Linked DNA regions of Homo sapiens. The protein of the gene in region 2 purifies or fractionates together with the protein of the main gene of each other region. This does not show direct contact. Each region holds a gene or a part of one and is shown on either strand. Other genes may lie near its edges.

What was found.
Region 1: the proteins of KIR3DL2 (region 2) and LRP12 purify together in Homo sapiens (affinity purification with mass spectrometry; 2 studies listed by BioGRID and IntAct, with this or other methods). This does not show direct contact.
Region 3: the proteins of KIR3DL2 (region 2) and FBXO38 purify together in Homo sapiens (affinity purification with mass spectrometry; 2 studies listed by BioGRID and IntAct, with this or other methods). This does not show direct contact.
Region 4: the proteins of KIR3DL2 (region 2) and FAM114A2 purify together in Homo sapiens (affinity purification with mass spectrometry; 2 studies listed by BioGRID and IntAct, with this or other methods). This does not show direct contact.

Annotation. Positions count from the first base shown.
Region 1 is NC_000008.11:104,586,249-104,593,346, forward strand, and holds the start of LRP12 (low-density lipoprotein receptor-related protein 12 isoform a precursor), read right to left. Parts: upstream 3,011-7,098; 5' UTR 2,650-3,010; coding exon 2,571-2,649; intron 1-2,570. UniProt on the Homo sapiens protein: Probable receptor, which may be involved in the internalization of lipophilic molecules and/or signal transduction. May act as a tumor suppressor.
Region 2 is NC_000019.10:54,846,275-54,853,471, reverse strand, and holds the start of KIR3DL2 (killer cell immunoglobulin-like receptor 3DL2 isoform 1 precursor), read right to left. Parts: upstream 3,030-7,197; 5' UTR 2,997-3,029; coding exon 2,963-2,996; intron 2,253-2,962; coding exon 2,217-2,252; intron 1,475-2,216; coding exon 1,190-1,474; intron 1-1,189. Other genes in the region: KIR2DS4 (killer cell immunoglobulin-like receptor 2DS4 isoform 2 precursor), read right to left, coding at 6,262-6,288. UniProt on the Homo sapiens protein: Receptor on natural killer (NK) cells and T cells for MHC class I molecules. Upon binding of peptide-free HLA-F open conformer, negatively regulates NK and T cell effector functions. Acts as a receptor on astrocytes for HLA-F.
Region 3 is NC_000005.10:148,386,953-148,393,986, reverse strand, and holds part of FBXO38 (F-box only protein 38), read right to left. Parts: intron 1-7,034. UniProt on the Homo sapiens protein: Substrate recognition component of a SCF (SKP1-CUL1-F-box protein) E3 ubiquitin-protein ligase complex which mediates the ubiquitination and subsequent proteasomal degradation of PDCD1/PD-1, thereby regulating T-cells-mediated immunity.
Region 4 is NC_000005.10:153,989,648-153,993,944, reverse strand, and holds the end of FAM114A2 (protein FAM114A2), read left to right. Parts: intron 1-834; coding exon 835-969; 3' UTR 970-3,797; downstream 3,798-4,297.

The DNA.
Region 1 (7,098 bases), on a different chromosome or scaffold from region 2:
ATCAGAGCCCATAAAATCGTCATCTGGAAAGTAGCACCAAAATAAACAACAAAAAATTTTTTTATGTATGTGAAATGTTTCAAAAATCTGAAGCACACCTTAGAGTCATTTCATTTAAGAGTCACTCTGTGAAGAATTAATATTGGAGTTCCCTAAATATTGGCCAATCAACCTGCTTTTCTTTGTTAACAGTGATTGTGAATATTCAGTTTCATTAACAGAGCTAATTATTTTTGAAGCCTTTTAAAACACACACACACTTTTTACTGTATAGAGGACAGTTTCATAAATTACAGCTAGTATCTGTTCTAACAGGCTCAAGGCGACAGCTATTTCTCAGGATGCATCCACCACCCATTACAACTACTATATATTCTAAGTTACTCAATTCCCACTATTGTTATAGAACCACATCCACCCCATACTATTGTTACAGCCCTTTTTCACTATTATAAACCCACATATGGTTAGAGACAGAAGAGGACAAAAAACATGCAGCCATAAAGAGGATTTCTCAGTTCCAGGGTGAAGGGTTCCCTTTAATCTCTGCTGATATAGTTTAATGTTCTGCCTGGTTCACTACCTCCTTTTTTTTTTTACACTTTGAAACCTGCTGTGGCTTGAGACATCAACCTTTGGCATAATCACCTGCTGGTTTTATAATCTGCGGCCCACACTGTTGGAAAAAGGAGTTTCAGTCTTTGCTTACTAACAATTTGTGTTCCTCACTGAACACAAATTCCAAAAAGATAAAAGCTTTGATAGGCACCTACCAGAAAGTCACTTTGTGTACAAGTACTAAAGAATGCACCAAAACAAATTGAGGGGTTCACAGCCTCTTATCCCTCGAGGCAAAAGACTTCTAGTTCAAACACTGATGACACAGGTTTTAATGAAAGAAGAGCCCATTTATTTATCTATTCTGATCGGACATCACAGAAATTCAATGCTTATTATAGTAGAGGACAAAGCTGGACAATCCTAATCACCCTAAATTAAAGATACCTCTCAATTTCTTCTCTCTCCTGGGCCATTACACCAAACCTAGAGCAGAACTATACCCACCTTCAGGGCAGAAGAAACAACGTAATAGCTTATTGATCTCTGGTGTAGACCCAAACCCACAAGTCATCAGGCAAGCAGGGATTACAGCCACTTGATGCAGCTAACAATCAAAAGTCGTGTACTGGGTTTTTGGTCCCACACAAGCACACCTCTGGCAATTACCCCTACATAAAAAATGGACCAAACTACTCTCCTCACCAAAACAAACAAAAATACTACTAATCAGGTACGGGAGCAACACATCCTTAATTGTACCAAAAAGAATTTCTTGGCTGTCAGTAAATGCCCAATTACGTTCATTAATTCTTCATTTAGCGTCACTTGCCAGGTTTCAAAAGCCACCATCACATTCAATTCCGTAGATAAATGCCTTCAAAAGAGATAACACTTGCTGACAAATTGGCTGTTGACTAAACCTCACCACCACCACCATTATACTAGTCAAATCAATGTTTGTGGCAAATGAATTAGACTTTTTATAAGTAAAATTTACCAAAGTAATGATATCTTCTAATTCTTTTTCTGGAGAAATCAGAGCAACACTCCAAAAAGGAAAGGTTAAAACTGAGCTCTCTGAAATACCTATTCAGTGTGTTTAACTGATGAACTAAGAACGGTGAAGTCAGAAGTGTAACTTAATTATCTTAAGAGATAGATGTTCTTTGCAATTAATTCCATTCAGCTCTTGCTCAGACCCCAACGCAATATAAAGCTGTCCGCACAGTCTTCAGCCTTCTCTTAACCCGAAAGGAGTTATCTCTAACCCGATCCATCGACTGGAATAAAGTAACAGTGACCACAGCGGCGGACGAGGATGGATGAAATTACAATTGAACTAGGAGTCAGGACAGATGTGTACACCCTAACAGGAGAGACTGAGGTGGGGCTGGAAACTATTTTCTGGCCTTCTCCCGCGTGCTGCTCCCGGGGAACCAACAGGACCCTGCACGCCCGGATTCGGCAGAGCCCTTGCCCCCGAGGTGGAGTGGGGAGAAGTCAGCGGGAAGCCTTTTCAGGGAATCGAGTAGGACAAGGGCTGGCGCGGTGGGAATCTCGCCGGTGAGAGAACTTCCTAACCCCGGGTTGAGGGGGCGGGGGGAAGGACCGTCCCGGCAGCGGCGGGGGCGAGCTCCTCTGCTTTCTCACAGTCAAGCATCTTTGTGTGTGGATTGTGCCAGGCTACGGGTCCTGGAGCAACTGGCCGCGGGGGCCCTCGAACCCAGGTCGGGAAGTCCGCCCGCCACCCCCTCGCTCCGCCGGGGCCCTCCCGGCCGGGCCCCCCAGCCCCTCTCCACCACCCGAGGGTCTGGAGGTGGACGAGTGGAGAAAAGCATCTCCGTGTGGGGACACCCGTTCCGCCACATCCACCCCCTCACCGGTCTTTGTCCCGCCGGTAGCCAGGGTCTCCGCGGGAGTCTCCAGGGGAACCCCCGTCCTGGAGGCCTCGGGGCCCGGGTCGCCTCAGCTTTGTTCGGTCAGCGGGGCGCGGGGACGCGGACACTTACCGTACACCCCAGCGAGGAAAAGCAAGAGCAACGCAGACCTCCACCGCGGAGACTCTTTTGTGCTCCAGCGACAGGCCATAACCACAGCAGATGGAGAGAGAGAGGAGGAGACGGAGGAGGAGGGAGGAGAAGCTGGAGGTAGACGACGCCGACGCCGCCGCCGCCGCCGCCGCCGCCGCCGAGCCACCGGCTGCTCCCTGCGCTCTCCGCGGCTGCGGGAGGGGGAAGGGAGGGGCCGCCGCCGCCCGCGCGCGCTCCCTCCTCCCTCCTCCCTCCGGCTCGCCTGCTCCCACCCCGGGCGGTGCGAGAGCCCCACGCGGGGCGGCCCTCCTGGGGGCAAGGGCAAGGAGCTCGCGCGCCAGCGCGAGACGAGAGGGTGGCGGACGCCGGACTCCGGCCTCGCGCCGCTCGGGCTAGCCGGCGCCGCCACTCGCCAGACTGAGCGCGCGCCCATCCGTGCGATCGGCAATCCCCTGGCCCGCCTGCCTCGGTTCCCTCCCCGCGCTCCGCTGGACTTTCCAAGTTTCGGGCCGATTTCCACGCGACGGGAGCCCAAGGAGCAAGGCAGCGCCAATCGATGACAGAGCGTGCGAACGCCGGCTGCTGGATGCCCAGGGGCTGGAGCGCGGGGTGTGTGGAGGAGCACGGTCGCTGTCCGAGGGCTGGGCTCTGGCCCAGCGGGTGGGGGGAGGGGGGGTGGGATACCAGCTGGGAGGCTGAAGGTGGTTCCGTGTTGGGGGAGGCGTGGATGGTCTGAAGCTGACAACTTGGGAGTTCCTTCCTCTATCCGGTACCCCCAAGTCTCCACTTGCTGTCGGCGCGGAGCTTCGAGTGGGGGTGGGCTCAAGTTAGTGCGGCCAACCTGGCAGCTGGTCGGTCAAGGGGCAGTGTGGACTCCCACGCTCAAGGTGCCCGGAATGAGTCGGGCAAGGCTTGTGCAGAGCCCCTCCAGTCTGGCGTGGAAGCGCCAAGAGGTCATTTGACATCTCACGCTGGGTCGGGTGCAGCTGGGCCAGGATGTTCGGCAGGGCTGGAGCCGACTTTCAGGGTAGATATATTGAAAGGAGGATTCGCCCATCACGCTGCAGTTTCCCTAAAGCTCTTTTCTCACTCCCAGCAAATGGGAGTCCTCCTTTACTTAGATCCCCAGAACACTTTTCTAAGTACGTCTGTAGTGACGCTGGCACATCAGACCTTACCCCCTGTGTTTTTAAAGCGTTTGTCTACAACGTCTTATTTATATTAGATTTTATCGTTGCCCTTTGCAAGCACTCTCCATGCTATTCATTGAAGACCTACACTGCATCATGCTGTCCTATTGACATAGGTTGTCACTTTTTAATCCCAAACATCCTTGTGAGATAAATATTACCCATGTTTTATAGAAAAGAGAGAAATTAAATTACTCATGGCAAGTAAGTTGTTTGAAACAGTTTTTCTCATTCCAAAGTAAAGATTGTTGCCCCTATACCACAGCAAACTCTCTAGCACAATGCTTAGCGCCTAGTAATGTGTCGGAGTTGGTGCCTGCCAGGGGGTTCGTGGTCTCCCTGACTTCAAGAATGAAGCTGCAGACCTTCCCGGTGACTGTTAACAGCTCTTAAAGATGGCACGGACTCAAAGAGTGAGCGGTAGCAAGGTTTATTGCGAAGAGCAAAAGGACAGCTTCCACAGCATGGAAGAGAACCCCAGGTGCTGGCTGGTGGTGGCCAGCTTTTATTCCCTTGTGGTCCCCTCCCATGTTCCATTTCTGTCCTATCGGAGTGCCCCTCTTTCAATCCTCCCTGCGATTGGCTACTTTTGGAATCCTGCTGATTGGTGCGTTTTACAGAGTGCTGATTGGTGCATTTTACAGAGCGCTGATTGGTGCATTTTACAATCCTCTTGTAAGACAGGAAAGTTCCTCAAGTCCCCACTGGACCCAGGAAGTTCAGCTGGCCTCACCTCTCAGTAAGTAAATGTTAAAATTTAAAACATACTTTCTGGGGAATACATTTAGGCTTTTCCTCAGTCTCCTGCCGATTTGCCCCCTTTTAAGTTTTTTTTTTTAAAACCAGGAAATGCTATTCCAAAAGATAAGAGAAAAATGTATTAATAAGTATTACAAAAATCTAATAATTAACAAATCTTATATCATCTGGTAAAAAAAGCAACCAGCACTCCAAAAATGTTTTCCATTCTTGTTGGAAAGAAGCAACTTCAGTGTTTTTCACTAAACAAATTGCAGTTGTCTTTCCTAATTTTGGGATTCTAAACTCTACTTTCTTGTTTCTTAAGATTGCTTTCTCTAAATTGCGCTTCCATGAGAGCTGTGTTAAGAACAGGCCACAAGCAGAGTGAAGGAGTAGACTGGACTGCATCCTCCCCTGTCCACTTTTAGTACCATTCAAGGAATCCTGTCCCGAACACGAGACACACAGTGCCCTCATCAGTTCCTGTCACACCCCTCCCACCCCTACACTTGCTCATCCACCCAGATGTGTCTTCTCAGACTTGCCAGGTTATCAAACTTTTGGGTATCTGGACCCCCCATAACACTTACAATTTGGTGAGGACACCAAAGAACTTTTATTTATGTGGGTCATAGCTATTGATATTTAGCATTTAGAAATTAAAATAGAAAAAAAAGAATTTATTTTAAATTCATTTAAAATAAAACATGCATTACAAGTTTACATAACTCTGCTTTCCAAAACAAACACAAAAAGTTAAGAAGAGTGGCTTTGTTTTTGCACTTTTATAAATCTCCCTAATGGCTGGTTTAATAGAAGACAGCTGGATTCTCATATCTGCTTCTGCATCCAATCTGTTGCAATATGTTGTTTTGGTTGAAGTATATGAAGAAAATCTAGACTCATGTAATATATAAATTGGCAAAGGGAGAACCTCATGTACTTTCCTGAAATAGTCTTAGTGACACCCCGCTAACCCCCCACCACCCCCAGAAAAACTTTGAGAAATGTAGATCTAGGTGTCTGCCTTAATGCCTTCAAAATCTAAGTATTTTGTTTTTTATTAGAAGGGCTCTAATAAGTACTCAATGTTCACCAGTGAAGGGTATTTATATTTTTTGAGGGAACATTTTTATTTATTGAAAACAGTTATAGTAGGATATCAGACATTAATAAGCATCACATCACAGAATAGGTACTCAACGTTACTCCCTTTCTCTCACCTAATCTACCTAGCTGGCCATCTGGGCTGATACATCAAATTGTTCATCTGTGAGAAAGCACTTTGAAATCCAGAAAACTATAGCTATGCAGTGGTTAATATTGGTAACAATTCCATTGCAGTTGTACTACTAGTTGATTTTGCTTGGCCAGTGTTCTGGACTGCATGATTTAAAGCATAAATCATGCCCCTGAGACCCATATCATTCTTAATCTGAGTCCTCTGGATCCACCGATGGGCTTCAAAGAATCTTAAGCCTTCTGAAATTATATGAAGATTTTGTGTTCATGTACTTTTATAGAGAGAAGACATTATTTTCAGCAGATTCTTAAAATATTGTGTCAACCGTTTTCTTAAAAGTTTGAGAAAAACTGAATGAGGCAACCATTTGAGTTGCTGCTTAATCCTTTTCCAAGTGGTTCTGGAGCTCCTCAGGTACATGCAATTGGGAGTGGAGCAGTACAGGGACTGCTTCTTTTTCCCTTGACATATTTTGAAAAGGGCTACAATCTTCCACTTTATGGAAACATGCCCTTAAATAATCCTTTTGTTTGATTTTAAACTTCTCTTTTTTCCTTGTTTGGCTATCATCACATATAATGGTCTAATTTTTGTCACCAATTAAAATTTGCTCCATCCTAATGTAGACTCTGCTTCATTTAGTAGCATTTGAAAATCTCATCAACACTGAGGTTAGACTGGGGAGCATTATCACTCCCACTCTGAGAATCATCTTTTATTGGAAAGAAAATTGATGATAGTGGGTTTTCTATTCAGCCTGCTGCCAGAGAAAGTTACATCTTTTAACTCCCCCTCAAAGGAATATTGTGTTTAAAAAAGAAAAACAAACTTGAGAAAAAACATATAACTAACTAAAAAAAGACAGTTTTTTAAGATTGAAGTTAAGTAAATGAGATCCCTTTACAAATGAATTCTAATTTCCATTGGTGTTGAATAATATAGGCTAGCAAATGAGATCCATCAATCTAGGTAACTTCTAAACCAGTTCACTAGCACATTTATTGTGGTTAAATATTCTGGGCTGTGACAGCATACCCACCATTGTACCAAGTAGTCAAATATATAATCCTGGCTCTAAATTAACTAATCCAAATCCGAATAGATTTAGTTTTTCCCTCATAAGTTCAACTTAATTGTAAAACCAGACCATAGAGCATGCAATAACTTATAGTGGTAATAACATCTATCTCTTGTAAACGTAGAAAACAATTGCCCTCACCAAGAAAAAAGAAGTAAAGGGAGCATTAACTACAGACATTGGCATATATAAAGAGATACTCTGAGCTTTTTTGTTGTCGTTTAACTGCGAAGTTTCAAAATGCACATAACTTTG
Region 2 (7,197 bases):
TTCCTGCTGTCTATGTGGGGGTGGAAGAGGACAGGCTGCATGTCCAGGCTCTCAGCAGCCTGAATCAATCTCTTTTGAACAAATTGGAGTCTCTGGCAGAGGTATCAACTCATCAGTAAGGCAGACATCAGTGTCCACACACCCTGTTCCTGATGGGGATTGGGAGCCTCTCCTGCCATGTCTGTGCCTTCTCCATGGCCCCAGCTTCCATAGGGTGGTCCCTGGTGCTGGTTCCAGGAGCATCAACCCCTTCCTATGTGGATGGAGCCTGGTGGTGGCATCAGCATCCCACCCTTGCTGATCCCACGGTAGCCAACCTTCTCCTTGTTTGGTTTCTTTAATTAATTGATTAATTAATTTATTTTTGAGACAGTCACTTTTTCACCCAGGCTGGAGTGCAGTGGTGTTGTCTTGGCTCACTGCAACCTCTGCCTCCCCGGTTCAAGTGATTATCTTGCCTCAGCCTCCCCAGTCGTTGGATTACTCGTGCCCACCACCACACCTGGCTATCCTTGTTTGGTTTCCTAGCTTGTCCTTGACCTGGGTTCCTGTGTCGGTTTCCTGTTGCTGCTGCAGAAAATTATCACAAACATGGCAGCAGGAGAGAACACACTGACCCCTTCCACTTCTGGGGACAGAAATTGGATCCAGTTCTCCCTGTGCTGAAATCAAGGCATCTGCAGGGCTGCGTTCCCTCTGGAGACTCAGCAAATCAGTTCTCTTGACTTCTCCAGCCCTTAGAGGCCACCTGCATTCTGTGACTAGTGGCCTTCCTCCACCTTCAAAGCCCACAGTGGCTGATAGCGTCTCCCTCCCACTACACTGCTCTAATCCCCACTCCCCTCTTCCTCCACCTCTCACGCGGACCCTTGTGATTACACTGAGCCCAGCAGGACAGTCCAGGCTGTCTCCCCATCTCAAGGTCAACTCATCAACAACCTGAGCTCCACCTTCCCCTTCAGTCCCCTGCCCTATAACATAAATAGTCACAGGCTCCAGGGTTTACAATGTAGCCATCATTGGCGACAGTTATTCTTCCCACCACAGCACCCATTTCCCCTGTATTCAATCTCCCTTGACCCCAAATACAGTTGGGGCCTGGGTGATGGGACCCTGATGGACACCCCCACCAGAAGCTCTGGGATTCAGGAGGTGGGACAGTGAGAAGCCCAGACAGAAAGCCTCTGACCTGTGACCATGATCACCAGGGGGTTGCTGGGTGCCGACCACCCAGTGAGGGAGTGTGGGCGTGAACCCCGACATCTGTAGGTCCCTGCATGTGCTGGGGTCACAGGGCCCATGATGAAGCTCTCCTGGAATATTCTGCCGTGGAAGATGGGAACGTGGCTTCTGTCTTCTTTGTACAGCATGAAATTGTTAAACCCACGACGATAGTGACACTGAAGAGCCACGTGTCCTCCTCGAGGCACCACAGTGCTGGGCCGGGCAGACAGGAAGGGTTTGTCCTGACCACCTGGGGGAGAAGGAGGCACTGCCTTAGAGAGGAGGATGTGGAGCCACCCCTCCCTCCCTGTGCTCAGAAGATTCTCCCATTTCCGCTTTCTAAGGCTCCTACCACACCTGGGTGCCCAGGGCTACAGGAAGGACCCACCCCACATAGACATGGCGTCTCCCTACAACAAGTGTCAGCTGAGAACTTTGAGCAAGTGCTGAATAAGTGACTCTTACTAGATTTTAATACTGCAAAATTACTCACATAAAACAACACAAAGTAGACACGGCATGGAGGGCATGTCCTATGTGAATGGAATATCAGCCAATTCATGAACTGAGCCCCCTCAGAGGATTTGGAATGTCAGGGCCATGGCTGTGGTTTCCCCCCTCTTCTGGTAGAAAGACCGCAGCCACACTGCAGCCCCTACCGTCACGGAAACGCTGGAGGGTGTCAGTTATACCTTTGTCCTCAGAGGACCTGCTGTTCCTAGCACTGCTTCCCTCTCTTTCTCTGCTGCTGACACCACTTCCTCCCTGCACACCCCAGCTTGGAGCACCCCAGTCTCACCCCAGTCTTCACAGAGCTTGACTCAGGAAAGGGAAAGAAAGGCCAGGGAGGGCGAGGTCAGAAATGTGGGCCGAGTATCCAAGGGTCCCCTCTTCCTAGTTTATGAGAGACTCCCCGACAGGACTTCCCTCCTGTTTCAGAAAAATCCTCTTATGTGGGGAGATGACACCCTAAGGTTTGGGGACGGACTCACCCATGAGTGGCCAGGCCCCCTGCAGCAAGAAGAACCCTGGAAAGAAAGATCATGATAGACGATCCAACTGCAGGCAAACCAGGGCACCCTGCTGCCCCCACTGCACTGTGTGTCTTGGCAGCCAGGCCCTTGCTGGGCTGAAGGTAAACTTAGCCTCCCTGCTACCTGCTGCCAAGAACAGGGCTCTCAGCTGTGGAGAGACCCAGGCTCCAGGCCCAGATCAACACTTCCTGGCCCAGATCTCCACTCCAGGCCCATATCTCCACTCCAGGCCCCTATCTCCACTCCAGGCCCATATCTCCACTCCAGGCCCATATCTCCACATCAGACCCATATCTCCACTCCAGGCCCAGATCTCCCCTCTAGGCCCATATCTCCACTCCAGGCCCATATCTCCACTCCAGGCCCATATCTCCACATCAGACCCATATCTCCACTCCAGGCCCATATCTCCACTCCAGGCCCAGATCTCCACCTGCAGGCCCATATCTCCACTCCAGGCCCATATCTCCACTCCAGGCCCGTATCTCCACTCCAGGCCCATATCTCCACACCCAGGCCCATATCTCCCCTCCAGGCCCATATCTCCACTCCAGGCCCATATTTACACCTCCAGGCCCATATCTCCACACCCAGGCCCATATCTCCACTCCAGGCCCATATCTCCACTCCAGGCCCATATCTTTACCTCTAGGCCGAGATCTCCATCCCCACTCTCCCTCCCTCTATTCCCTTCCAGGACTCACCAACGCACGCCATGCTGACGACCGTGAGCGACATGGTGCTGCCGGTGCAGACAGGAGGCCGCGCCCCAGCTCAGCTCAGCAGCGCACAGGATGTTATTTGGCGCCCTGCCCATGCAGTTTACATGTTGACCACATCATGGGAGGGTGACGTACGCAGGCTCTTTCTACCTTGCATGAGGCCCAGTGGGTGCTCGCTCAAGAGCGGAACATGGCTTCCTGGAAATTGTTGTGACTACAATTGCCACCTTGCATCCTTCACTATGACCAGACTCAAAAGACGTCTCAGATCCAACCTCTCACACATGAGGTGATTGAATTCTGTGCTTACATTAAAGACTTTTGATGTATTTTTGTTTTTATCTGAGATTCAAACTTTTCTTCATGTGTAATGTGCAAAATATCTAAGAGGTATTATTAACATTATCAGAGTAATTGTGACAAAAAGCCATTCTAATTTTCCTGATGAGTTTCTAGTACTAAACCTGAGGCACGAGAATTGCTTGAACCTGGGAGGCGGAGGCTGCAGTGAGCTGAGCTCAAGCCACTGAACTCCAGCTTGGGTGACAGAGGAAGAGTCTGTCTCAAGAAAGAAAAAAAAAAGCAAACTAAATAACCTATAATAACAAATCAGAGAACTCAGGTTACCAAATTTTAAGGGGTTCTATAAGTTTATATGAAATGCAGCATCCTCATGAGAGGGGATACAGAGAACCACTGGGCAGAAAACTGTGTCTAAAATACATCTGTGGATACACAGTCCCTTTATAGTTGACAAAGGCTGCCATGTAGTTTAAGGTGGAATAGAATATTTTCTCAACAAATAACACAGGACCATAGGGTTACACGTAGGAAAAAATAAATCTAAACTTATCCTCACACTATAAAGACACTTCTTATTTTTTATCTTGTTGTTGTAAACTTTTTATGCTTTATTTTTAAGATTGACAAATAAAAATTATATACTGTGGTCCTTCACTATTCCTGGGTGATTGGTTCCAGGATCCCCATTCAGATACCAAAATCTGCAGATGCTCAAGCCCCTTGCATGAAATGGCATAGCGAAGCTGGGCACCGTGGCTCACGCCTGTAATCCCAGCACTTTGGGAGGCTGAGTTGGGTAGATCACGAGGTCAGGAGTTCAAGACCAGCTGGTCCAACATTCTGAAACCCCGTCTCTACTAAAAATACACACACAAAAAAATTTATCTGTGCATGGTGGCACGTGCCTGTAATCCTAGGGGAGGCTACTGGGGAGGCTGAGGGAAGACAATCGCTTGAACCTGGGAGGCGGAGGTTGCAGTGAGCTGAGATCATGCCACTGCACTCCAGCCTGGGTGAGAGAGTGAGACTGTCTCAAAAAAAAAAAAAAAATAGCATAGCAATTGCATAGAACCCATGCACATCCTCCTGTATACATGAAATCATCCCTTGATTACTTATAATTCCTGACACAGCCTACACGCCACTCAATTTGTGTCGATTCAACATAGTTTTTTGCTTCTTGAAACTTCGGGGATTTTTTTCTGAAAATATTTTTGATTTATTGTTGGTTCAATAAACACCTGTAAACCCCACAGATATGGAGGACCGACTGTATATTTATATTATGAAAGATGATATGTTGATATGTGTCCCCGTGGAGATGAGACTAACAAGGCCTATGACTCTACAAATGTTTCATCGTGGAATGACTCTGCCAGCTTTCCAGGTCTGCAGAGAGTAAGAATATCACTTGTTCATGTGATTCACGATCCTTGGAGCCTCCTATGTGCTGTATCTTTGGATGGAAATTGGAGTCTCAGAGACAAATCAGGCTCCATTCTGCTTCCAGAAGCTCAGAGTCCAGGGCTGAGAACCCAATGGAGAACAGATGGGGTTATGTGGACATGGTAATGATAACACCGGAAGCCTTAGGCAAGAAAAGAGTCTCGTTACCGAAACCATGAGGGCAGACATGTTTATTTGAAGGCGGGAAAACTACATTGAAATTATTTAAAAAATTTATAAGTTTTACTGCTGGCAGAAGGCTGAAAGATAGTCTGAAGGGAGGTGGAACAGCACGTGTCTAAGTGCTGTGTTAAGAGGCAGCCTCTTGTATGTTTGGAATTGTGAGTTCCTCAGTGTGATTGCAGCCTCAGGTAGACTAGGAAGTAAGCCAGTTAGGTTGGAGAGGTGGGCAGGGGTCAAGTGAAATGGAGAATTGTGGGCTAAGCAAAGGAGTGTGTTTTCTCTCCAGCAGGCAGTGGGGACCTTAGACATTTGTAAGCAAGAGAGAGGCATGTTCAGATTCGTGGTGTGAGGAAGAGCGATGCCCTAAGATGAAGACTGATGCCTTCAGATTCCAGCTGCTGGTACATGGGAGCTGGCAACCCGGTTTTGAGACAGGGCTGTTGTCTCCCTAGAAGATCCCCTCAAGGCCTGACTGTGGTGCTCGTGGACAGAAGACAACTTTGGATCTGGGCTCAGCATTTGGAAGTTCTATGTACATGCTGGTATCTGTTGGGGGTGTCTTGGGCCTCTCAGAAGGGCGAGTGATTTTTCTCTGTGTGAAAACACAGTGATCCAATTATGCGTATGACACCTCCTGATGGTCTTGTTCATCAGAATCCTGGAGAGAGGGAAATGCTGAGTGAGGGAGGGTGCTCACATTTTTCAGGACTCTTTGGGAATAAGACTAGCCACGAGGCTGGGCGGAGGAGCACCTACCTCGCTGTTCACTGTTCTGTTCCCTGCAGGCTCTTGGTCCATTACAGCAGCATCTGTAGAAGACGGAAGTCAACAAAAGAGCTCGGAGGGCACTTCTGGGTCCTCATTTCATAAGCAGATACCAACAAACAGGGGGAGGCCATAGGTGCCTGAGGTCCCTCAGTTGCCAACAGCAGACTCAGACATTCTATCTCTCTGAGTTCAAGGACCCATCCCATGAATAGCTCTGAGGTCCCATCCCATTGATTCTATCTCCCACTTTCTGCCTGTCATGGAACCTTCTCCTGGATGTGAGTGGCTGCAGGGGACGTGAGGATACAGTTCAGAATCAGGCAATGGTCTGTGAGCTGAAGGCAGGGGAAGGGAATCTGGTGCTCTCTCTAGAAAGTCCTGCCTCTGTGGCTCCTGTCTTGGGCCAGGGACCATCCTGCTGGTGAGGAACACACATCCGCGTGCTCCCATCCTGCTTCCCCACATGGCCCTGAGCTCTCTGGCCTCTGCTTCGTGAGACTTACTTTTTTTGTCGGAGCACCAGCGATGAAGGAGAAAGAAGAGGAGGATGGTGAAAGGGATTTTGACCACTGAGGTCCCAATCAGAACATGTAGGTGTCTGGGGTTACCTGGAAGAAGAGGAGACACCAATAAGAAGCTAATCATAGCAGTTCCTCTTTATGAATTGTCTCGCATTTCTTGATTGGCAGGTAACCACATACAACGTCTCTTTAGGACAAGCACCCAAATGGCGGGAGACCTAGCTTTCCCCTGCTTTCTCAATTATAGCTCTCATAGTAACCATAGAACGTGCTGAGGATACAACTACTTTAGTTGAGATGTTTGACCCTTTCAAACCTCACATTGAAATTTCACCCCCATTGTGGGAGGTTGGGCCTCTTCAGAGGTGTTTGGGTCATGGAGGTGGATCCATCATGAACAGATCAATGCTGTCCCAAGGAGACGGGGTTAGCAAGTTCCCCCTCTGTTAGTTCCTGGAGAGCTGGTTGTTAAAAAGAGCTTGGAAGCTCCATCGCTCCCTCTCCCCCTTACTCTCTCTCTTGCCGTGTGATCTCTGCGGTCTCTGCACAGACAGACCCTCCTTCCCTTCTGCCAGAGTGGGAGCAGCCTGAGGCCGTCACGAGAAATAGATTCTGGTGCCATGCTTCCAGTACAGCCTGCAGAACTGTGAGGCAAACCAATCTCTTTTCTTTAGAAGTTACCCAGGCTCAAGTGTTCCTTTAGAGCAACAAAAATGGACTAAGATAGCAACATCCTGAGATCAGGAGGAATGTCTCAGAACAGCCTGGGCTGTCTTCCTGTTCTTCCTGGAGGAGGACGTCATGCAGTGCTTTAGCTGAGTGCTTCCTGTGGCTCCAGGGTACAAAACCCAGGCTGGGCTGCTTTCTGGCTTCCCGCAGCTACACTGCAAATGGGGTGACTCCATATGTCCCGAGCAGCTTTTCTGAGCCTTGAGGGACTGGCTCACATTGAAATGCAGGCTTCTGTTGTCACTCGCTGCTTATCTGTTAGTAATG
Region 3 (7,034 bases), on a different chromosome or scaffold from region 2:
GAAAAGAGGGGAGAGAGGAGGAATGGAGAGGGAAAGCAGGGAGAAAATGGGTTGCATGAGCACCCAGATGGTTTTCTGTTCTATTGATCAGCATGTGGAGTTAACACCTTGATTGTCAAATTGTCTAGGAATATTTTAATAATGTTGGTACAGATATAGGGAAGTTTATAGGAAATATTGGTCTCTTTTATATTAATGGCTTTGTAGATGGAGGAGGCACAGGATGACAGCTGAAAAGAGGTGCATTCAGATTCATTTAAATATGCCTTGGCACATTTATTTTGAATACCACTTATGTACTCTGGGCCCATTGTAAACAAACGGCCCAGAGTTAAGTGGAGATACACAATTAAATAACCACGCAAATGAGCTCAGAATTGCACACGGAGATAACTGCTGCAAAGACAGTAAACACAGTTGTGAAGCCTCATATAACAAAGGGGCCTGAGTCACTAATGGTTCTCCTGAGGGAAAGACAATTGAGCCCATAACTGAAGGGAGAGCAGGAATTAACACTGCAAAAAGTAGGAAAGAACTCACTAGGAGAAAGGCACCTGGTGGGCAGAGGGTACTTTAAGTATATGCAGTTCCTGAGGTTTTTTTTGCCTCAGCAGTAAATGGACACTCTACTAGGCTAAGTAAATCTTCATCATTTCTTCTGCCTGTGTGTGTGTGTTCTGGTCTCTTCTTCCCTCACTGAAAGGTTATGTGCTATTTACTTCTTGAGGCTGTCAGCATGCTTGCCTCTCATCACACACACACACACACACACACACACACACACACACACACACACACCCCTCTTCTGTTGTTTCTAACCAGTACGGCCTGAGAAACCAGAGAAATCAATGTGTGTGGACTGGTATATGGGCTATGCTACCCTGAATTTGTGACATGTGTCTTAACTTCTCAGAAGCTTACTCCTATGTTGTCTATCACATTTTGGCTAAGAGGCCTCCGGAAAAATAAAGTTCATACTCAGAACTGCCCAAGCTAAAAGAAAAGCTATAAATAAACTCACCTGCTTCTGATTAACCACTGCCCACCTTTTCTTGTTTACTGCCCTGCCTCCTCCAAATGAATCTTTCCATCTTATGATAGCTCCTGAAACCTCTAAGGTTACATTGAACATGTAGTCAACAAATCCAATAGCCTCTTTCCAGTGCTTCCCCATCTGACCCATTTGTATTATGGGACACCGCTGACCACTCCTTTGAAACCCTCTCATCCTTTGGCTCCGAAAGTGATATTCTCGATTCTTGTCGTTCCTCTATGACCACTGCTCAGTCTCCTTTGCTAATTTATCCTCGAGCCCTCTTCTCCCTGGGCAATTGTACTCATTCCCAAGGATTTAGCTATTACAAATACACACACACACACACACACACACACACACACACACACAAAGAAAAGCAAAAAAAGAAAAAATTTCCAACTCTACTTCTTACCTCTCCTGAGCTCTGAACTTTATTTCCTCTGCCTATCAGAAATTTTCACCTCAATAACTTGAACATCCTTCAAAAACACTATGTTCAAAATGAACTCCTTCATATCACGAACCCTCCCCCTCCCCAAAACAAAGATACACAGATATATACAAATAAACACACCTATTTCCCTAATGTGTTTTACTGAATTCCTGAATTGTAAACCTTGAAATCATCCTAAATATATTCTGATTTCTCATTTCCCACAGACAATTGATGGGCTATTTTTATCAATTTTATCTCAATACAGTTCTTACATCCATTCCCATTACCTTTTGGGACTCCATTAACATTCACGTGCACTACGGAAATGGCTTCCTAAATGATACCCATCACTGTATCCTCAGGGTCGAGGAAAAGCTTAGCAGACACTATGCCTGCCATAAGTAATTTATTGAATAAATGCTTACCATGCTATACTCTATACTGAAGCCAGTTATCTTTTTAAAACAGTCTCCTGATTTATAGTGTTAAGTGAAAAAAGCAAAACACAGACTACATCTAAAGTATGATTCTAACAACAACATAATTTTAAAAATTAAAAAGATTACCCCCTAAAACTTTTTTTAAAAAGTATGATAAAAAAGACAAATATACTGTGTCTGCATACAACATTTTATGAAAGAAGACAACAAAATATTAACCGGTAACCTTTGAGGAGTGATAACAGAGGTTTAGGAAAGCAGAAAAAAACTTTTACTTTTCACTTCATATTATTCTCCATCATTTGAAATTTTCAGATTGTTTTTAAGAAGTACAATATACATGGCCAAGCAAAACAAAACAATCGGCCTACAAGGAATCCTGGTTCAGAGGATAAAATATTTCCAATCTAATCTCAAAACACCAGATGTTCCAATCTTATCTTCTTCCAATCCTTACCACTTGCTCTCAGTATACTCACTCTAGCAGACCAGTATCTTCTTAGTTCCCCCAAACAACCATTGGTGTTTCATTCCTAATATGCTTTTAACTCTGACTGGAAATGTCCTTCTTTTCCCTACTTTGCCTAGAAAACTGCCTGTAAAAATCTAGCTTAAATGTAAGTCCTCTGTAAAAGCTTCCCCTACTGACTCCTTCATTTGAGCTCCCTGTGGGACTTAACATATGCTTCCACAGCAGTTTGTGTAGTGATTTATTAGTCATGTTTCTGCTAAAAAATCTTGCCTCTAGGTGACAACAAGTCCTTGCTCACAATATATCCTCAAATATCTAATGTATGAATATCCACCAGTCTTTCCATTATTCTATATACATCCAGTAGCTTCGAGGCTGCTGCTAAAAACCATTTCATGCTCTTATGAGACGTTTGCTACCACAGCATTCAATGATCTCAGCAACAAACTTATAACCTAGACAATAATGCAATCAGATTTTACTGCAGTGACACACCTAACAGCTACTCTGTAGCATGTAAAAGCCTCAACAGGACGATTAACCAGCAAAGACTAATCCACCCACAAATTACCTAGATGCTCAGACCAATCCACCAGTTGTTATACTTTAGCACATGTTCAGCTTTAAGAATCTTGACAATCCTTCATCGAGATGATGCTCGATTCTTTATTCCTTTAATAAAAAGCTTTTTTTTAATCCCTTCTTCCTCCTTTTTCTTCCTCAAATTCACACCACCTAATAACACCTTCCTCTACTGATTCCACCTTTGATTGTTCCTTAGGATTCTGCAATGTGGTGCTTTTGTGTGAATTAGATTTAGTAGCCCTAGTGCACAAACTATACGTAAATTTTTAGACTAAATACCCTGCACCTTAAATATCATTGAGTTTATAAAACTCCACTTATTGAGAGTTAACAAATATTTACTCACAGAAATGATGTTATACAATATTATACTGAGGTTAGATCTCCAGGAAGCTGACAAAAACCTTCTTAACCTACAATATCCTTTAACACTAACTAGCAAAAAGCCTAAATTTTAAATTAGCAGGACTGACAAAATTTTAGGTAAAACTATTCCTGTTTCTTACATCACGGCTAGAATTGAAGACTTGGGTCTTTTAGTTCTTACCAGGCAGGTGAATAGTGAGGCCCCTACCCTAAGCCTATCGTGGGGAAGGAACTTGTGGAGATAAACACTAGGGTAAAAGAAAACATCTCTATCTTATATATAGGAGATTGACAGGACTTATAGCCTGGAGAAATCTAGCAGCCTTCTCAAGTCCAAGTAGATGTCTCTGAAAATGTTCAGGAGATAAAAAGCTTCCTCGGTCAAAAAATATTTTATTTTCCCCCACCCTTACTCAGTCTTGATAAAGGACAACAAAGTTGCTTCAGCTAAAGTTGGCTTCATCTTCATTTAAGTGAAATACCCAGCTGGGCTATGCTGAGTATTTCATCTCAGGTACTGATGAATAGGGACCTGGTTTCCCTATATGAGAAAGAACACTTGAAATTCACACACCACAAGTCCCAAGTAAGTGGTGATGGTACCTTTTTTTTTTTTTTTCTTTAAGACAGAGTCTCGCTGTGTTGCCCAGGCTGGAGTGCAATGGCGCGATCTTGGCTCACTGCAACTTCTGCCTCCTGGGTTGAAGAAATTCTCCCACCTCAGCCTCCCGAGTAACTGGGACTACAGGCGTATGCCACCACACCCGGCTAATTTTTGTATTTTTAGTAGAGACGGCATTTCACCATGTTGGCCAGACTGCTATCGAACTCCTGACCTCAAGTGACCCACCCGTCTCAGCCTCCCAAAGTGCTGGGATTACAGGCGTGAGCCACCACGCCCGGCCGGTATCCCTTTTTAATGTGCACCCTTTCTCTTATTTGCTTTTCTTTTTAGTTGGAAGAGGAACCAAAGAAAGTGAGGAGAAAACTGCCATCACTAGCCTTGTGTTTTTTTCTCACTCCTACCTCCAAAATACCACTTGCCACTAAACACCCTGCCTTCAACTCACTTGAGAAACTCAGTAATGCAGAGAACGTACAAAGCAGTAGTAGGTTAAAAAAGAAAGAGTAAAGGAGGGGAAAGTCCAGTTATCGGCATTAGAGAAAGATGACTTGGAGGAAGTCTTGCTGAGAAGTCATGGAGCATGAGGGACAGGTGAATACAGGTATACCTTAATTGTGATTCACTTTACTGTGCTTCAAAGATAATGTGTCTTTCACAAATTGAAGGTCTGTGGCAACACTGCGTCAGGCAAGTTTATTGGTGCCCTTTTTCCAGCAGCACATGCTCACTTCATGTCTGTGTGTCACATTTTGGTAATTCTCACAATATTTCATATCCTTTCATTATTATTATATGTGTTACGGTGATCTATGATCAGTGATTTTTGATGTTACTACTTTAATTGTTTTGGAGGTACCACAAACCATGCTGTATAAGATGGCAAACTTGATTGATAAATATGGTGTCGTTCTAACTGCTCCACTGGCTAGCTGTTCTTCCTATCTCTGTCCCTCTCCTTAGGCCTCCCTATTTCCTGAGACACAATGATATTTAAATTAGACCAATTAAGAACTCTACAACGGCCTCTAAGTGTTCAAGTGAAAGGAAGAGTTGAGCATCTCTCACTTTAAATCAAAACCAAGAAATGACTAACCTTAGTGAGGAAGTCATGTTGAAAGCCAAGACAGACCAGAAGCTAGGCTTCTTGTGCCAAACATTAGCTAAGTTGTGAACACAAATAAAAAGTTCTTGAGAAAATTGTTACTCCAGTGAATAAACAAATGATAAGAAAGCAAGACAGCCTATTGCTGATATACACAAAGTCTGAGTTTTATGGACAGAAGTTCAAACCAGCCACATTCCCTAAGCCAAAGACTAATCCAGAGCAAGGCCCTAAGTCTCTGCAATTCTATGAAGGCCGAGAGAGGTGAGGAAGTTTTAGAAGAAAAGTTGAAAGCTAGCAGAGGGTGGTTCATGAGTTTATGGAAAGACGTTGTCTCCATAGCGGAAAAGCACAAGGTGAAGCAGCAAATGTTGATGGAGAAGCTGCAACAAGTTATCCAAAAGATCTAACTTAGATAACGGCTGAAAGTAGCTACACTACACAACAGATTTTCAGTACGTACAGCCTTCCATTGGAATAATATTCCATATCAGATTTTCACTGCTAGGGAGAAGTAAATGCCTAGCTTCAAAGGGCAGGCTGATTATCTTGTTAGAGAATGCAGCTGGTGACATGAAGTTGCAGCCAATGCTCACTAACCATTCTGAAAATCCTAGGGCCCTTCAGAATGATGCTAAATCTACTCTGCCTGTGCTCTATAAAAGGAACAACAAAGCCTGAAAGACAGCACATCTGTTTACAGTATAGTATACTAAATAAGACTTCTACTAAGATCTACTGCTCAGAAAAGTTTCCTTTTAAAATATTACTGTTCATTGACAATGGACCTAGTCATTCAAGAGGTCCATTAGATACACAAGGAGATTAATATTGTTTCCATGCCTGCTAACACAATATCCATTCTGCAGCTAATAGATCAACTAGATCAAGAACTTTCAACTTTCAAGTCATATTATTTAAGAAACAAATTTCCTGGCTGGACCCGGTGGCTCACACCTGTAATCCCAGCACTTTGGGAGGCCGAGGCAGGCAGATCACAAGGTCAGGAGCTCGAGACCAGTCTGGCCAACATAGTGAAACCCCATCTCTACTGAAAATACAAAAATTAGCTGGGTGTGGTGGCATGTGCCTGTAATCCCAGCCACCTGGGAGGCTGAGGCAGGAGAATTGCTTGAACCAGGGTGTCAGAGGTTGCAGTGAGCCAAGATCGTACGACTGCACTCGAGCCTGGTAACAGAGCTAGACTCCATCTCAAAAAAAAAAAAAAAAAAAAGAAATAAATTCCCTAAGGCTATAGCTGCCATAGACTGTGATTCCTCTGATGGATATGGGCAAACTAAATTCAAAACCTTCTGGAAAGGATACACATTCTAGAAGCTGTTAAGAACGTCTGTGATTCATGGGAGGAGGTCAAAATATCAACATTAACAAGAGTTTGGAATCCAGTCCTCATGGATGACTCTGAGGGATTCAAGACTTCTGTGGTTATAGGAGGAGCAGGATTGAAATAATAAACAACAAAAGACATCAGTGGAGGAAGTCGCTGCAGATGTGGAGGAAATAGCAAGAGAACTACAATCGGATGTAGAGCCTGAAGATGTGACTGAATTGCTGCAATCTCATGATAAAACTTGAACAGATGAGAAGTTGCTTCTTATAGATGAACAAAGAAAGTGGTTTGTTGAGATGAAATCTACTTCTGGTGAAGATGCTGTGAACATTATTGAAATGACAACAAAGGATTTAGAATACTACATAAACTCAGTTGATACGGCAGCACCAGGGTTTGAGAGAACTGAATGTAATTTTGAAAGAAGTTCTACTGTGAGTAAAATGCTATCATACATCGCATGTTACAACAAAATATTTCCTAGAAGGAAGAGCCAATCAATGAGGCAAACTTCACTGTTGTCCTAAGAAACTGCCAAGCCACCCCAATGTTCTGCAACCACCACCCTGATCAGTCAGCAGCCACCAAGACAGAGACAAGATCTTCCATTAACAAAAATAT
Region 4 (4,297 bases), on a different chromosome or scaffold from region 2:
AAGAGATTTAACTAGACGATATCTGAGGTCCCTTTTGTGTGGGAAATTGAGTATTAAATGTCACACTGAATTTTAAATAGTACTTGCCATTGATAAATTTTAAAAAGGTAATATCACTTGATATGGGCTCCCTATTATTTTTAGTGGATTTTTTTTTTGGATACAGATTTGAAACACTCTTGTCTTCGAAATTATACATTTTTATCTTAATGAGCTCTCTGTTGATATTCTTTTGAAAGGTGAGGGCTTTTCAGTATAAATGAAGTCCAGCAAACTGAGGGTAATGATTCTCTAACACTTCTGAAAAATGTTGTTCAAGATAGAAATATATCTATACTGTCATCTTTGAAAGCAGTATATGTGTGAAAGATGTTTATGTGTGTGAGCAGTTATTGTGCTCACTGATCGCATTGAGTCCATGGAAAAAGAGCTATCATAATGGGCTAGAAATTCTATAGGTGTAGGATTTATAGCCTTCTGAAAGCCTCTTTCAGTAATTGACCACAATATTGTGACAGAATCTACCCTACTCAATAAAGGAATAAATAAGCTTTGAATGCCAAGTCTGACCATGTTGCCAAAGAAAAGCTACCATGTCTGATGGGCAAGTTGTACAAAATGCTGACATTCTCTTTTGGTGCTCATATCATCTTAAGAGCTAAATTCTTCTCCCTATAATAGAGTTTACCAAAATGGCCAAGTCACTGCTCTTACTTGCCAGGCTATGAATTCAGTTAGATTACAAAAATTAATCTGTTCCCCTGTTGCCTTACAGTATATCTTCTCTTTTAAATAACTAATATTTTCTTTTTCTTGTTTTTTCAATCCTGGCAGGCATCAAACAGTGCCTCCTACATCCAGGACGCCTTTCAGCTACTCTTACCTGTGCTAGAGATCTCTCTCATTGAGAACAAGATTGAATCACACAGACATGAGCTGCAGGGCCAGAAACCTTTGTTAGAACATTGAAGAATGGAGACGTTTTGACCTGGGACTTGTGACGGCCAAGGAATGCCACCTTATTCTGGCTACTCCTGCAGAAATGAAGGAGTGGGGTTATTTTAGTATATAAAAATTCAGGCAGGAGAGATGGTTTAAAGAGGAAGATTGTTGCCTTCAGTGTTTGATTGAAGTATTCAGGTTCTCACAGTATTCTTTCCAGTTGTTGTAATTCATAAATTATTTGAAAAGAAACTTTTGTAGAAAGTCCAAGAATAATAACTCTAGATAAAGATTAGTGGGACACTCAGGCAAAAATGTTGGTCTTTCTTTGACATGTTGCAAAATGTTATCAATTTTGTCATGGATATAATTTGCAGCCCATGGATATAACTGGTTGATAAGCCAGAGAAAAATAATTTAGTGTTCTAAAATTCATGGCATGTGTGGTTTATTAATGCCATGTACTTTCTCCTTTCTGGAATAAAATCTATGGCTTTAAGAAAACTGAGCATATGTAAACTCTGTGATGATTACCCTTTATCACATGAATTCTTGGAAATAGAAAGTTTCATCTGCTTTTTTAAATTCTTAGTAGATATTTGGCATTGAGGAGAAACTTGTAGACTATTATAGCCATGTGAATTAACTGTAGCAAAGTGCCCTTTTTCTTCAAATTGCTCCCCCTCCCCAGGATGACACACTTCATGTCATAGCTGAACCCTACTCTACTGGATTCAAGGCCAGTAAATGCAATTTAGAGAAGCAGTTTTATGTTTGCAGATATTCTGAGTCTCTTCAGGATGTGTTTCGTGTCTACCATATATGCAGGATAAATTCTTTAACAGCAAACTCCAAAGGAATGTTGAAGCTGTTTTAGCAATGAGGATTTTTTTGTTTGAGTGTTGAAGTGGGCCATAGTCCTTTAGAAATGATGTTCATTTATGATAGGATTTAACTTCTAAGGCATAGTTTATTTTTTCCTCTTTCCTTTTTGTTTGTTTTAATGTATTCTTTAGCATGTTTTTGATATAACTTTTATCCTCCAGATCTTAAGCTTTCTTTTGCTCTCTTCAGCAATTTAAGAGACTATTAAGCTGTCGTCTTCCTAAAAGCTATTTTGGTATCCACTCTTTTTAAAAAAATTCTCCAACTTTGTGGTTTTTTAATGATTAAGGTAATTTGTTAGCTCTGCCCCTCATCTTCTAAAACCTTTGTAATAAAATGTATTAATCATGTTATTTGATCCTTTCATTTACTTTTGTAAACACGAGCCCTAATATCTTACTTAGACCAAAAAAAAAAAAAAAAAATAGCAAAGCAAAGCCATAACATAGATTAGTATAAAGACTGTTTCTACGTAATCTTCTTTGGGGCAGGAGTCAGTTAGTAAGCAAGGAAGAGAAATAAATTTGGTTTAAAAAGGTATACCAACAGCACTACAATGTTACTCTGCCTATATTCTGTCTTAATATGATCAGAAAGTTTTTGAATATTCCTTTTTAAAGACAAATTTCACCCTTTCCAGCTTGAATATTTCTGAAGTTTCAGAAAAACAGTTGCCTTCTGGTTACAAAGGCTGGTGTCACCAGTTCTGAATTGTTGCCTCAAGCTTGGTTGATGTGTCTGAACCTGTATCCCTTGAGGGCAAAGTTTAGAAACTGGTCACTCTGCCTACTGTCTGTTCAGCCTCTTGTACAATGGCAGTTTGGCAGCTTTAAATCCTTAACCTAGAAATGTATTTAAGGTTTTTCTTTCAAGAAATGGGGTATACATATGAAGGAGAGAGTAACAACTCTTTTTATACACCTATTCAGATTTCAGCCCTGAATTTGGCAAATTTTAGATTAGGTCTCACATAAGGTAAATATGACTCACTAACTCTTTTTTTCTCATCTTCCCCACCCCCCCATATATATTTATTTATTTTAATGGAGTTAGGGACCACTAGTGAAATGATGAAAGGCCCAATTCTGAGTAACAATTGTCTACTCTTCACATAAAATATACTGAAAAAGAATTAAGATTCCTTGATCCAGTAGACATAGAGAAACATAAACATTCATGACAGATGAGTAGGTAAATTCAGGGATCACTTTGGAACTTGCTGGATTATGGTGATGGTTTTTGGATAGTATGTGCTTCATTATTTTATTTGGGGTAGTTACAGTGTTTTAGTTTTTTGTTAACAGCTACACTTTTGGTACTATTTTCCTTTTAAATTTTTGGTGTCTAAGATTTACCACTAATTACTAATATATGCCTTTCCAATTCACTTAAAACCTTAATAAGTGAAATGTTCAGGTATTGCTAGGGTAAATGTGTCTTTTCCTACTATTGAGATTTTAAAAGGCTGTGATTAAGAGAGACTTTATTAATTTGATCTGAAAGAAGTAGAAACCTCTATGAAACAATTTTTATTTTCCTTTGCATAATACCTTAGAAATGTGTTAAGGACAAGCTATATTTTCCTTACTTGCTTTTGATAGTTTTTTTTTTTTTTTTTAAGCATAGATATCCAGGTTGGCAGGCCTCTGAAATGTGAAATTGTAATTTTTATAGATGGCATTACTATGAATCTGAAATCAGTGCTAGGTGTACAAATGTGAATTTTTCAATCCTGTAATCAAAGAACAAGATCTTGTGGGTTCCTACTGCTGAAAAAGGATGCTTTCTTTTGTACTTGTTTTTAGTGAAAGACCTTTTTGAGGGAGAGCTATTTTATAGGTAGTTGCTATTGATATCTCCATTTGAGAAATAGACATTTTTCTGTATTTCTAGAGGTGTTCTGAATTTTAAACCTGAATTCTTCAGTTTAGAAAACCCAGAATAAAATTATACCCACAGTGGGCACTCAACAAGTGTGATATTTCACAAATGTCAGAGACTGAGCTGTTTTATTATCTCTTTGTGTGTGTGTGTGTGTGTGTGTGTGTGTGTGATGGAGTTTCACTCTTGTTGCCCAGGCTGGAGTGCAGTGGCGTGATCTCGGCTCACCGCAACCTCTGCCTCCTGGGTTCAAGTGATTGTCCTGCCTCAGCCTCCCGAGTAGCTGGGATTACAGGTGTGTGCCACCACACCTGGCTAATTTTGTATTTTTAGTAGAGACAGGGTTTTTCCATGTTGGTCAGGCTGGTCTGGAACTTCTGACCTCAGATGATGCCACCTGCCTCGGCCTCCCAAAGTGCTGGGATTACAGGCGTGAGCCACTGTGCCTGGCCCTTTTATTATTTCTTAACAACACATGATATCTCTTTTCATAAAAGACTTAAAAAGCATTTGAGAAATGAGAAAGTTCTAAAAATAATAAGCCTCTTAGTTAACATGTCATAAAGGCCTCTGGCAACTGTATGAAGAG